4 linked regions of the Homo sapiens genome follow. The protein of the gene in region 3 purifies or fractionates together with the protein of the main gene of each other region. This does not show direct contact. Each region holds a gene or a part of one and is shown on either strand. Other genes may lie near its edges.

Region 1 (3,500 bases), on a different chromosome or scaffold from region 3:
TTCCTATGTTTGAAATCCACCTAATGGGAGTTCTGATTGATGAACAACCTTTATAAATTAATTTCATGGCATTGCTGAAATTTCCAGTTAATTGAGTGTAATGAAAGAATGTGTCAGTAGGTGTTAACACTCCAAATGCCTGGTAAAAAAATTTGTAATGAAAAAGTTCATGTATCAGCTAACGAATTCTGACTGTTTAACATCAACTGGAAAATTAACTAATTTTAAGCAGAAATGAACAAAATGATCTGTAACACTTATATATTTGGAGACACTGACATACCTGAAGCTATGAATGCTCCTGTGTGAGTATTATGTGTACCAGATCACGTATATGTTGAAGAAACACTTAAAATAACATTTACAAACAACATAGATTAAGTTGCATAGCATGTTGCAAGTAAAGTATCTTGAGAAATTCAAACTAGGGTTGGTATCTGTTTTCCCAAACCTTAATAACACAGCAGGGGAAAAATCAACAGTAATTGCTTCAAAGCAACATACAAATCTTTTTTTAAATGAATGCTCTTAACAGAAGGTTTTCATCTGCACAGAGAATGTATGGAAAATTTCAATGATTTGTGGATTGATTATAAACTCAACTAAGTTCAGAGAATAATACAAAAGAGGCCATAGCTCATCACTGTTTTTTTCTCATTTTAAGTCAGATATCAACAAATAGCACACACACTTCAGTAGCAAATGCTCTTCCAATCCTTTTACAATCTTTTAAAACAATGAAGGAAATTACATGTAGAATTAGGCATGATTTAAAAGTCAACATTGTCACAGTTTTCACAGGGATGTAAGTTATTCATTAAAAAAAATACAGGCTGGGCACAGTGGCTCATGCCTGTAATCCCAGCACTTTGGGAGCCCGAGGTGGGCAGATCACGAGGTCAGGAGATCGAGACCATCCTGGCTAACACGGTGAAACCAGGTCTCTACTAAAAATAAAAAAAATTAGCTGGGCGTGGTGGCGGGCACCTGCCGTTCCAGCTACTCAGGAGGCTGAGGCAGGAGAATGGCATGAACCCAGGAGGCAGAGCTTGCAGTGAGCTGAGATCGCACCACTGCACTCCAGCCTGGGCGACAGTGTGAGACTCCATCTCAAAAAAAAAAAATTATGTTTTGGTCAAAACCATAAATGTGGTGAAGCCACCTGATACCTTGTGAATGTTATAATTTGTCAAAAAGATGGTAGTTTAAAAATCCTAAGGGCCAAGCACAATGGCTATGCCTGTAATCCCAGCACTTTCGGAGGTCAAGATGGGAGGACTACTTGAGCCTAAGAGTCTGAGATCAGCCTGGCCAACACAGGGAGACCCCCATCTCTACAAAAAATAAAAAAATAAAAATTAGTTGGGTGTGGTGGCATGCGTCTGTAGTCTCAGCTACACAGGAGGCTGAGATGGGAGGAAAACTTGAGCCCAGGAGGTTGAGGCTGCAGTGAGCTGAGATCGTGACACTGCACTCCAGCCTGGGTGACAGTGAGACTCCATCTCAAAAAAAAAAAAAAAAAAAAAAAAGATTCCTAAGGACTGACTGAAAGAGTTACATTTGCTTTCTAATATTTGGTATGTTTGTCTAGACCATGAGTGACTGGGAGTAATATTAGACTACTGAGAACAAATATTAGAACTGAGAAATCAACGTGAAGGAAGTGTGTCTTTTGCATGACCAGGCCCTGCTCAGAGAAGGGCACATGTTATACATACCTAGAAAGAATAATGGCACCTCGATTTACACTAGCCCAGGACTTCAGGTTCTTCATACCAACATGCTCTACAAGTGTTTTTGCAAAACAACCTGTAAAATATACTGAAGCTTAGTGAACATCACATAATAAGATATATACTCCCTACCCCCTTCTCTACTGCCCTTAAATCTGCAAATATTTTTAAACAAAAAAGCTAACAAAAGTAGCTTTCACCCAATCTCCCTTTTAACACAAAAAATTCCAGTGCAGGTTTATCTAATGCATTTCTAAAAGAGCCATTTCTTTTAACTCTGATCCAAAACCTAAGCTATGTTTAGCAGTAATTACTCAAGATAAACTATGAATTCTAATAAAACACTCACTTGGTTATGTCTGCACTTCTTTGTATTATTTAATGATTTAACTTTGACCTGAAAGCTATTCAGGAAATAAATGTTTCACAGTAGCACCTCATGCTTGGTTGAAATCAAGTTCTTCCTCATGGAGAAATGCTCACTCACAAGGTGCCATGAACATAACACAGTGTTCACGTGTTCAACAGTGGTTGATAAATGACTGTTCTAGCTTAAACTTGGCATTTCTCTTTACAACGCTTACATACTCACAAATCAAAAATACCATTTTTCTCCCGTTATTCTAGTATTTGATTCCCAAGGTCGTGGTATTATCTTTTTCACTTTGCAATTAATGCTTGGACAAAGGAGAAATTCTGATAGCTAAGATTTAGTGCAGATGGAGGTAGGGACAACCTATCTTGAAGGCAAACATCATAGTCAGGTAGCATGTACTATATAATTCATTCAAAGATACCTGAATGTAAGGACTCTTTAAAAGCCAAGAGGCCTATGGCTATTCAGCCTTTCATGGTACCTGCTAAAGAGGGACAGAGTTCAGCTAGTGAGGCAAATTGTTTTCCAAAGCTGACCACAATAATATCTCCTGTCCTGTGTGCTCTTCTAGAATGCAGCCACTCCCCCATCTATAGGGGGAATCCATGTCTTCTTTTGAATCACAGTGGGCCTCTGTGATTGACTTGACCAAGACAGTATGATGAAAGTGGCATTAAATGACTGCTAAGGATAAATCATGGAAGTGCCACGCATTTACTTTGTCCTCTTGGGATGCTCACTCTTAAAAAAGCAACCACCATCTCGTGAAGGAGCCCAAGCAGCCTAGAAAGGGAAACTGAGGCTGTTGGTCCCCAGCCAACAGTCAGTACTCACTTGCCAGCCATGTGAGTGAGCTAAGCGAAAAGTGGACACTCCAACCACAAACCGAGCAGCCCTAGATGACTCTGACTCTGAGCATAGAGGGGCAGGCTCCACCAGACCCTGATCAAGTCATTGTTTTGAAAACTACTAAGTTTTAAGGTGGCTACTATCCAGTAAAAGAGAATCAAAACAGCTAGACGTGCAGGAGGACAAACTCATTTGGTGCTGAATACGACAAGACAAACACATCAGACCCAAACTGGCAGATTTTAGGGTTCTCAGCACATTTTAATTAAGAGGGAGAAAAACCACTGGACATTAAGCCAGACTACTTTTCTGGCATAAACTCAACTATACATCAACTTTTTAATAATGAAAAAGATTATTCCATATGTTATTTTTTTCTTTAATATTTATCACAAGGCTTCTCTTTTACAAAAAAATTTAGTGAAAAATAGCCCCAGGTCCCCATTCTTAAAGGTAAGGTGAGAAGTGACAGCTCTACTGCTATACTGATTGCCACACTAGCCATCAGAGCTGCCACTTGCCGCAAGACATGAATTCATGAT
Region 2 (3,500 bases), on a different chromosome or scaffold from region 3:
CTTTCTACATAGCCACCACACCTGGGATAAGATGGAGTAAAAAAATAAAGAATTAGAACTATGTTTCCAGTTAGACTATCAGGAATCAAAACAGGCATTCTGGAATCATCTGCACCCTACCTGGAAGCTAGGACATCTCTACGGCAATAACTTCTTTTTTTTTTTTTTGAGACACAGTCTCGCTCTGTCGCCCAGGCTGGAGTGCAGTGGTGCCATCTCAGTTCACTGCAACCTCCGCCTCCAGGTTCAAGCGATTCTCCTGCCTCAGCCTCTTGAGTAGCTGGGATTACAAGCATGCACCACCACACCTGGCTAATTTTTGTATTTTCAGTAGAGACGGGGTTTCGCCATGTTGACCAGGCTGGTCTTGAACTCCTGACCTCAGGTGATCCACCTGCCTCCTCGGCCTCCCAAAGTGCTAGGATTACAGGTGTGAGCCACCGCACCTGGCCGGCAATAACTTCTTTAGGCACAGTACTTGATAAGTCAATATATAAATCACAGTCAGTTTAATAAATAGCCCACAGATGCTGAACAGTGATATAACCAAGGAGGAATCTAGATACCAACCTGCATCTATCAGCAATTATCTCAGGGACATTTTTCACTAGGGATTTAAAAGGACACTCTCACCAGATAAAAGAAAGAATACTGGCAAGGGTTCTTTCAAGTTTAACCCCAAGATCAAGTTCTAGAGTATTTCACCTAAATAGCTACCGTATTAGCAATGAGACTCTTAATAATGCAAACATCTTTTGAAAATGCAGAAAGTGGGTTACTACACTAATTCACCAAAACACCAGAAATATCTGGGTCAATGATATGGGTATAGAAAGCTTACCTTTTATCTCTTTCATGTTCATGCCTTTGAGAGCTTTACCTGCTTCTAGGAGGTTTTTGAACTGAACAAAACCAAAACCGCGCATCTTCCCATCTGTGTGCAAATGCACAAAGAAAGAAGTGAGAGGCAGCAGGAGGTAGCCAGAATACTAAGAAGTAAATTACTGCAATTCAGGCCCACAAGATGGCCCAAATTCTGCCAGCAGGTCAGGCCCTTCCCCAAAGCAATTGCTTACATCTTCTTACTGAGTATACTCTGACTTGGACTTGGGGAGAGCAAAACACTTTCTCAAACTAACTCGCCTTCTAAAACTAATTCTGATCCAACAGAAAATATCATCAGGGGAATAAAACCATTATTTGGGTTTTCATTAGATGTGAAGCACTGTGCCAAATACTTCATATATATCATATATGTTTGTTCAAGGGTAATATGTTAACTAACGTAATCCACACCAAGTGAAGGTTTATTAGTACCTGGTTTCCTAGGGATATTTACTTCCAGGACAGCTCCAAATTGAGCAAATACTGTCTTCAAGTCATCTTCTGAACACTGAAGCCAAAAGTGAAGAAAGAAAAAGAGAAACACAATCACAGCAAATTAACATAAAACATCAACTACTAAATTCATTAATTATGAAAAACATGAATGTTTACTTTTTTTTATTTTTGATACTAGGACATCAAATGTTTCTAAATAGAAGACATTTTACTTTGTACCTAAGAGGCAAAAACACAGACGTCTGAGAACTTTTTCTACCTTTTCTTTCTCAGTAGTAGTTTCCCCAAAAAGGAAAGCAGCTTCACACTTAGTGCCCTTATTACACAGGCCCACTTTCTGAATTCAACAGGGGTAAGGTTGATTCCCAGAAGGAATTAAGCCCAATTATACCATCTTGGTGAGGAGTTCTACTAATGATCACATCTTGGCTCTAAAAGCCTTCAAAACATGCAATGTTCATTTTCTCTCTCACTTACCTTAAAGCTCAGGTTCCGAATAATTAATCTGGCTTTCTTATCTGCCACTTTGGCTTTTTTAGCCTTCGGCTCCTTCTTTGGGCACTCTGAGTTTTCTAAAAAATAAGAGGTAATGGAATAAGTACTCGAAAATCACCCACTTCTACGCCAGAACATCACAGAAAAAAAAGCTACTGGCGACAGATGGCATTTACCACAGGGTTAAGTGTGGCAATAATACCAAGGAATACCAGATTTTTCCAAAGAACTAAAATGAGTATCACAATACACTGGATGATTTTGGAGATCAAAAAGAAATGCAAAAAGCTTTAAGTTCTAGAAGCTACCTCCATGCCTCCCTCTTTCATTTTCATAGTGCTCCTCCTCACCCTGGGAGAAAAACTTCCTTCAATTACTAGAAACTCACCATTTTTCCCCTTTTCCTTTGTCTTGTTCCTCAGTTTTTTCTTGGCAACAGTCACGTTGATCTTGCAACCTTCAAAGGTGGTAATCTCCTTGAGGGCCCTCTGAACATCTTCCAGCATTGAAAAAGTGACATAGCCAAAGCCTCGACATGCCTTACTCCCTGGAATAATGGAGTGGGGAGGGAGTGGAGGGGCAGTGTGAAAAGGAGAGAGAATCATAAGCCAAGAGCACTAAATGAGTAAATCCTCAAAGCCTAAGCTAGAGGATATACTGCCAACCCATCTTGCTATCAGTTTGCCAAAAGTCTCAGGAGGGCGAGAAACAAGGGTGGTATCAGTGGTTCCCTCCCCACTTTGCTTAGAAACTGTTAGCCTTCCTCCTCTTTTAATTTAGTGTCTTTGCTGTTAGCTCCCCTTCTTCCCCCTTTCTTGATAATCCCAAGAAAACAGAGAATCCATGACATATGAGGCCCTCAAAGAACTCAACATCAAAAAGAACAAAACATCACCAAAGAAGGCAGGAAAGGTAAGTATATGCTATGGTTTGAATGTGTCCCCCAAATTTCATGTGTTGGAAACTTAATCCCCAATGTAGCAGTATTGAAAGGTGGAGTCTTTAAGAGGTGACTGGATCAGAGGACTCTGTCTTCAGGAATGGATTAATCAATTTATGGATTAATGGGTTAATAGATTAATGGGCTATCATGAGAGTGGAGCTGGGGGCTTTATAAGAAGAGGAAGAGAGACCTGAGCAAGCACATTAGCATGCTCAGCCCCCTCGCCATGACACCCTGCACTGTCTGGGCATTTTGCAGAGTCCCCACCAACAAGAAGGCTCTCACCAGATACAGCCACTAAACTTTGGACTTCTCAGCCTCCAGAACTTAAGAAATAAATTTTTCTTTACAAAGTACCTAGTTTCAGGTATTCTCTTATAAGCAACAGAAAATGAATTAAGACAGTATGGTAGCTTCAAAAATCAGAACACAATAATGCAGTTACTCCTCAAAATAGATCAGCAATAAATGCCTGAGGCCCAGACAAAAGAACCTCAAACAATAAATACTGCTCAGAGAGACTGCAGATGTTATGACCACTATTACCAACGCCTTAGCTGTCGATATCAAATTAAACCTTTCCAAAGCAGCTGTGCATTCTTGTCTCATTTTATCTTTAGAACACCTCAAAATAGGTAAAGCAAATATTATCACCCCTTCTTTCCAAGTAAGTAATTTGAGATGGAAGACAGTAAGTGAATTGGTTAATGTCACACAGGGT
Region 3 (3,500 bases):
TCCTAGCCTTAAGTGATCCTCCTGCCTCAGCCTCCCAAAGTGCTGGGATTACAGGCACAAGCTACTACATCTGATGGCAATGTTTTTAATGAGTCTGAATTCGTTAATGAAGGGGAAAATTTATTATTTTTTTTTCCCAATGACTCCCAAGTCCTACTCGCAAACAAATACATTGTAGAAAAAAGTTTAATTGCTGGTTATTGTTTGAATCTTGAAATACAATTCTTCACTGATGATACTGGTATAAAATGGTGGTTATTAATTCATGCTAGCACAACCAAAACTAATTTAACATTATTGGTAAAAATGAGTCATTTTTGAATCTCTATTAAAATCTGAACACATAAACAAATCTGTGCTAAAACTGGAACTGCCTTCTCACTCTACATATAATTAAACTTCCAGCTTCAACCATCTGATGTTGAAATCTAAAGCACCTCCATGAGTTAAATGTCCCCGACAAACCATGTAGATGGACAAACAAGATTGGTGGTCTTTAATTGCTGGCGACAGAAAAGGCTGCAGTTTAGTACTTAAACCTGCAGTTAGTGGTCAACTTTCTATCCAGGCAGAGTAAACTAAGGAGAGCTATGAAATATCAAAAGAAAACTAGAGGCCAGGACAAAGAGGCAATGTCAGCCAAGCCACTGCAAGATGGTATGCACCCCTGTATTTCAGCCAAGGGCAGGCAATCCAAAATTACACACTGCTTTCCTTAACTTGACCAAACAGTGTATTTTTCCTCTGAAAATCTTGTCAAAGGTTGTATTCCATTGTACCTAGTGAAATACAAAGTCCACTCTCATAAAAATATTATATTTTTCAAAAGAAATATAATACATTGAAAATCACTGATTGCTGCTTCTTCGTCTTTTTTTCCGTGAATGTGTAGGTGTTTGAGTCTCTTGTATTTCTTCTTTTACACAGGATATGGGCTGTTTGAAAACTATTTCATCATCTTTATCATCATCATTCAGTTCAGCCACTTGAGATTTTCGCCTCTCCAAAAATGTTGGTGTACAAACTGGTGTGGGGCCCTGGATTCAACAAGTAAAGATTATAATACATAAATGTAAAACATGATTATGACTTTACCCAAAAATATCATCTCTCCTCTATTTTTACAAGTTGTGCCCCATTATTTTAGCTCTGTTACCATCTTTTGGTGATACTATTGCAAAGAATAAAGAACTTAGATGCTTATCAAACTTGGTACAGAAATTCACAATTAACAAATATAGCATGTTCCATTATAAGGTTTTAGGCAGAAAATTGCTAAATCAACAATAAAGATCTACCAAATGTCACAATATTTAATTTGAAATCTTAAAATGAGAGTAGCAGAAACTGCTTCTCCTCCTTCAAATTATTTCTATAATATCTGGTGTCTGGAGTATTGAAAACCATTTTACCTGGCTATCCACAGTCTTCTCAGGAGTGTCAAGAGTACCTGAAACTTTTTTCTTCTTCTTACGTAAAACCTTAAAATAAATTTTAAAACACATCAATTTGAATATTGATCAGCTACAGTAGTCTTGAATATGTTTTCCTACTTATCCTTCTCTAATATCTTGCATGTAAAATGATAAAAAAAATTTTACCTGGCCTTTTGTAGACGTCTGACGATTAGTTTTTGAAATACTTTCCGTTTTCTGTAAAATCTTTAATAAAGAAGTTAGAAATTGACACTCATATCTTTTCTTTCTAAACTTAGCATTAGATCCTCATATATATTATCAGTAAATCCTCCCTAAATGACAAGAGCATTTCATTTTAAAAAATCAAAACTCATAAATACAGTGAATTATCTCAAGTAAAGGGCAAAACTAGGAAAAACCCAGTAGAGGAATTGACAGAGCTGCAGAGGTTGAAGGGAAGGCCAAAACCTGGAGCTCACTGATTCACAGAATCCTGAATTCAGGAGGGTGGAAGCAGGAAGAATGTGCAAAGGCAGGCCACCCCCATCTCCTAAGTCACAAACAGGGTACAGGAAAAGCAGTGCTCACATGCCTCTTTTCAAGTTTCACTGTCTCAGTTCCCAAATGGTTCACAAGAGTACCAGGGCCTAAGGCCTTGGCGAAATATTCTAATACTATTAAAGACAGTATTTGGGATTTGGGCAAAAAATTAACCACCGAGAATTGAGGCAAAGGAGGGTAACACGGTCATCTAGTTTCTGGATAAGGTTAAAAACCTAGTAAATTGGCTGGGCGCAGTGGCTCACGCCTACAATCCCAGCACTTGGGGAGGCCAAGGTGGGTGGATCATGAGGTCAGGAGTTCGAGACCAGCCTGGCTAACATGGTGATGAAACCCTATCTCTACTAAAAAAAATACAAAAAATTAGCTGGGTGTGGTGGTGTGTGCCTGTAGTCCCAGCTACTCGTGGGGGCTGAGGCAGGAGAATCGCTTGAACCTGGGAGGCGGAGGTTGCAGTGAGCTGAGATAGTGCCACTGCACTCCAGCCTGGGCAACAGAGGGAGACTCCATCTCAAAAAAAAAAAAAAAAAAGAAAAGAATGAGACCTTTACCTATACTAGCCATACCATAATAAGCTTCATTCTTGATCTATAATAAAAGACATAGCTCTCCTCACTGTGACAGATGGAGGAAAGGGTCAGTGTTTTGGTATCTACTTATAGCATACAGTAAACCAAAGACTTAATTCTGGCAGTGTCACCTCTGAATGACAATCTTTTTCTTTTTTAGCGATACGGTCTTGCTCTGTTGCTGAGGCTGGAGTGCAATGGTACAATCACAGTTCACTGCAAACTTGAAATCCTAGGCTCAGGAGATCCTGTTGCCTCAGCCTCCTGAGTAGCAAGGACTACAGGCACACACTACCTCAACTGGCTAATAAATGGCAATCTAAGAGTATTACAGTCTTTAGTTAAATAGTGGGTTTACTTCAGTAACTTAAAACAGAACATGTAAGTTAAACAAATCAGATTATCTCCTTAAAAGAAGCTTCCTCTTCTGTATAATAGAAATAACAGAATCTGGTCTCATAATGTTTTAGGAAGAACCTACAATGGAATGTTTCAAAAGTTTAGTCAGGCCAGTCATGGTGGCTCACACCTGTAATCCCAGCACTTTTGGAGGCTGAGGTGGATGGATCACCTGAGGTCAAGAGTTCGAGACCAGACTGACCAACATGGTGAAACCCCATTTCTACTAAAAATACAAAAAATTAGCCGGGTATGGTGGCACGCACCTGTAATCTCAGCTACTCATGAGGGTGAGGCAGGAGAATTGCTTGAACCTGGGAGGTGGAGGTTGCAATGAACTGAGATTGTGCCACTGCACTCCAGCCTGCCTGGGCAACACAGCAAGACTCTGTCTCAAAAAACAAAACAAAACAAAACAAAACAAAAAAGGATGGGTGCAGTGGCTCACGCCTGTAATCCTAGCACTTTGGGAGGCCGAGGCGGGCGGATCACCTGAGGTCAGGAGTTCAAGACCAGCCTGACCAACAAGGAGAAACCCCGTCTCTACTAAAAA
Region 4 (3,500 bases), on a different chromosome or scaffold from region 3:
TCAGAAATGAAATAAAATCCTTTGATTTGACTTCTTCATCTTACTCATAGATTTATGTATGTATAAAAGTAATTATAATTGGCTTTTTCTTTGAAACAGTATGTTTATACGATTAACAAGTTCTTATCTAAGACTGTAGGAGTTAAACCAACCCATTCAGAATCAACTTTTCCTCATAGCACAGACATTTACTAACTTCCTTACATTGAAGTGAACTTTAAAATCTTAAAATAACAAAACCACAACTTTCTGAATACCCTATGTCTAAACAGCTCTGGATCTGGAAACACTGGTGGAGGAGAACTGGGGAATACAGGCAGGATAAAGTGATGGTGGAGCAGCCAGGCGTGGTGGCTCACGCCTGTAGTCCCAGCACTTTGGGAGGCTAAGGCAGGCAGATCACCTGAGGTCAGGAGCTCCAGACCAGCTGGCCAACATGGTGAAACCTCATCTCTACTAAAGACACAAAAAATTAGCCAGGCGTGGTGGCACATGCCTGTAGTCCCAGCTACTCGGGAGGCTGAGGCAGGAGAATCGCTTAAACCCAGGAGGCGGAGGTTGCAGTGAGCCGAGATCGCGCCACTGCACTCCAGTCTGGGCGACAGGGCGAGACTCCGTCTCAAAAACAAACAAACAAAAAAAGAAATCAGGGACATGTATTTTAATTTTCAACTAAAATTTTTTCTTCCACTTAAAACTGCTAATTTTCAGCTAGTTAGAAAACTTGTCAATTCAAAACAGCTCATGGCATATCCGATAGATTCAAATCACCCAAGTACTACTATACACTGCCAAAAGCACCTTTTAATTAACTGAAGCACCTTTTAATTAACTAAAAATAATTTTTAAAATTGATGCATAATAGATGTACATAGTTTCAGGGTGCATATAATAATTTAATATTGTGCCTTTTTATTCACAAGCGTCCTAATGAATTTTTTGAGTGGTACATAAAATTAAGATTTCCAAATAACTATGTATAATTACCTATGTTGTTATTTCATTAAAGAATTAAGTACAATGTCATACTTTTCTGTGTAGATGATCTGATCTTAATCATTTCAGTGAGTATGTTTACTGGAAGATCAAACTGATTTAAGGAAATATTCTCTAGCTTTTAGTTATCTGCAAACAGAACCCAGTTCTTTCTCTCTCAGATGGGCTCAAGCTGGTAGATATGCTAACTGGTAATTTCTACATATTTTTAAATATTATTTGTCTATTTCTTGAGGAAGAGTGACATTACCACTACTGTTCAAATTGTAATTTCCTCATTTTTCTCCCTCTCATACACTTCTCTGGCTGAAAGTCTGTTTTCATTAAGTAAACTCCTCAATTAGAATGTTATGTTTGCTTTTCAAAGTATGCTACCACTTTGTTTTGCATATTTCCCCCCATAAGGCCTAACCATTGTGCAAAGGCACATGTGGCATTACTAACGATTTTGTTTCATATTAATGGCTCTGACTCCATAGTGAATAAAATTTCCCAACGGATATAAATAGTCACTCACATACAAGGAATAATTACTATAGGATGTATAGGAACAGTGGTCAATAACACTATGATTTATTCACCCAAAAGATCATGTTAAAGGTTATATTAATATAATTTCCTGTTTAGAGTTCCTTTCATCCAAAAAGCTCAAAACCATTTTATAAACCTCATTTATCTTCACAAATAAAGTGTGTGAATATTAAATATTACCATTTTCAAATTGCATAAGGGCTAATTTGCAGTAAGAGCGAGGGAAAGGGTTCCACAGTATAGCTAGCCCAAAGAATGCCTGGGGAGCCAAGTTAAGTCAGACATACTTTCTGGTATATGCCCATCTATGAGTACCCCTTTACTCTTATAAAGCAGTACTGTCAATCTTAGGGGGACCTCAGAATTATCTAAATGGTATTGCTATAGTTTACAGAGGAAGAAACAAAGACCCTGAGAAGTGGTGACCTGCCCATGTCACGTGGCTGAGCCCAGCTCAGAGCCAGGTCAGTAGGCTCAGAGGTGATGCTGAATCCCTGGACCACCCCTTCCTCCCATCCTCAATGCTCCCCAAGTGTGGCACAGCCTCTGGAAGCTAAGCTGATCCACATGTTTAGTGATTCTTTCAAGTAGCAGCTCACTCTCAATCACAGTGTCCATTTTTTATTTCAAATTAATAGCTAACAAGTATTACAAGGCACATATGGAACATCTAGTGATCAAAATTACATACTAGGGTCTCTGATTTTAAAATTTCAAACTTTTTTTCATTATGAAAGATGTCGTGCTAGTGTAAAGGTGATTCTAGCAATCAGATTTTTGGTGGATCTATGTATTATAGTTACACTGCTAGTTTTTTATTTTTGTTTTTATTTTTATTTTTTTGAGACAGAGTCTTGCTCTGTCACCAGGCCGGAGTGCTGTGGCACAATCTAGGCTCGCTGCAATCTCCGACTCCGTGGTTCAAGCAATTCTCCTGCCTTGGCCCCCTGAATAGCTGGGATTACAGGCATGCGCCACCATGTCCAGCTAATTTTTTGTATTTTTAGTATAGATGATGTTTCACCGTGTTAGCCAGGATGGTCTCGATCTCCTGACCTCGTGATCTGCCCACCTCAGTCTCCCAAAGGGCTGCTGGGATTACAGGGATGAGCCACCGTGCCCGGCCTTACTGCTAGTTTATTCTTTTTTTTCTCTTTTTTTGAAATGGAGTCTCGCTGTCACCCAGGCTGGAGTGCAGTGGTGCGATCTTGGCTCACTGCAACCTCTGCCTCCCGGGTTCTCCTGCATCAGCCTCCTGAGTAGCTGGGATTACAGGTGCACACCATGTTGCCCGGCTAATTTTTATATTTTTAGTAGAGACGGGGTTTCACCATGTTGGCCAGGCTGGTCTCAAACTCCTGACCTCAGGTGATCCACCCATCTTGGCCTCCCAAAGTACTGGATTACAGGCATGAGCCACCACGCTGGGCCAGTTTATTCTTGCTCTAAAGTCTGACTTGATAATTCTCTATTTTGTTTTATTTTCTCTGTATCTTTCTTTACAAATAAACCCTTTTCACTAAATACAAGTGAATACTTTCTGCGAAACCGTTCAACACAGAAGAGTTTTAGGCTACTGTTACCACTCATTTCTTACTGTCAATGATTTTTTACCGTTATATTTTTATCTCCCTTGTATCCCCTCTATGTTTAACACAGAGGGCATACATACCCACCCGAGGCAGGAGAATCGCTTGAATGCGGGAGGCAGAGGTTGCAGTGAGCTGAGATGATGCCACTGTACTCCAGCCTGGGCAACAGCAAGATCCTGCCTCAAAAAAAGAAGTGTTCCAGGTCAGGCGCGGTGGCTCATGCCTGTAATCTCAGCACTTTGAGAGGCCAAGGCAGGTAGATCACGAGGTCAGGAGATTGAGACCATCCTGACTAACATGGTGAAACCCTGTCTCTACTAAAAATACAAAAATAAAATTAGCCGGGCGTGGTGGCGGGTGCCAGTAGTTCCAGCTACTTGG

What was found. Proteins that work in one complex are often made in the same cells at the same time.
Region 1: the proteins of NIFK (region 3) and PUM3 purify together in Homo sapiens (affinity purification with mass spectrometry; 4 studies listed by BioGRID and IntAct, with this or other methods). This does not show direct contact.
Region 2: the proteins of NIFK (region 3) and RBM28 purify together in Homo sapiens (affinity purification with mass spectrometry; 4 studies listed by BioGRID and IntAct, with this or other methods). This does not show direct contact.
Region 4: the proteins of NIFK (region 3) and RPF2 purify together in Homo sapiens (affinity purification with mass spectrometry; 4 studies listed by BioGRID and IntAct, with this or other methods). This does not show direct contact.

The regions. Positions count from the first base shown.
Region 1 is NC_000009.12:2,806,096-2,809,595, forward strand, and holds part of PUM3 (pumilio homolog 3), read right to left. Parts: intron 1,810-3,500; coding exon 1,719-1,809; intron 1-1,718. UniProt on the Homo sapiens protein: Inhibits the poly(ADP-ribosyl)ation activity of PARP1 and the degradation of PARP1 by CASP3 following genotoxic stress. Binds to double-stranded RNA or DNA without sequence specificity. Involved in development of the eye and of primordial germ cells.
Region 2 is NC_000007.14:128,337,409-128,340,908, forward strand, and holds part of RBM28 (RNA-binding protein 28), read right to left. Parts: intron 2,384-3,500; coding exon 2,225-2,383; intron 1,914-2,224; coding exon 1,819-1,913; intron 1,394-1,818; coding exon 1,318-1,393; intron 935-1,317; coding exon 842-934; intron 1-841. UniProt on the Homo sapiens protein: Nucleolar component of the spliceosomal ribonucleoprotein complexes.
Region 3 is NC_000002.12:121,726,876-121,730,375, forward strand, and holds the end of NIFK (MKI67 FHA domain-interacting nucleolar phosphoprotein), read right to left. Parts: intron 1,686-3,500; exon of another isoform or gene 1,662-1,685; coding exon 1,602-1,661; exon of another isoform or gene 1,482-1,601; coding exon 1,413-1,481; exon of another isoform or gene 1,038-1,412; coding exon 849-1,037; 3' UTR 70-848; downstream 1-69.
Region 4 is NC_000006.12:111,020,038-111,023,537, reverse strand, and holds part of RPF2 (ribosome production factor 2 homolog), read right to left. Parts: intron 1-3,500. UniProt on the Homo sapiens protein: Involved in ribosomal large subunit assembly. May regulate the localization of the 5S RNP/5S ribonucleoprotein particle to the nucleolus.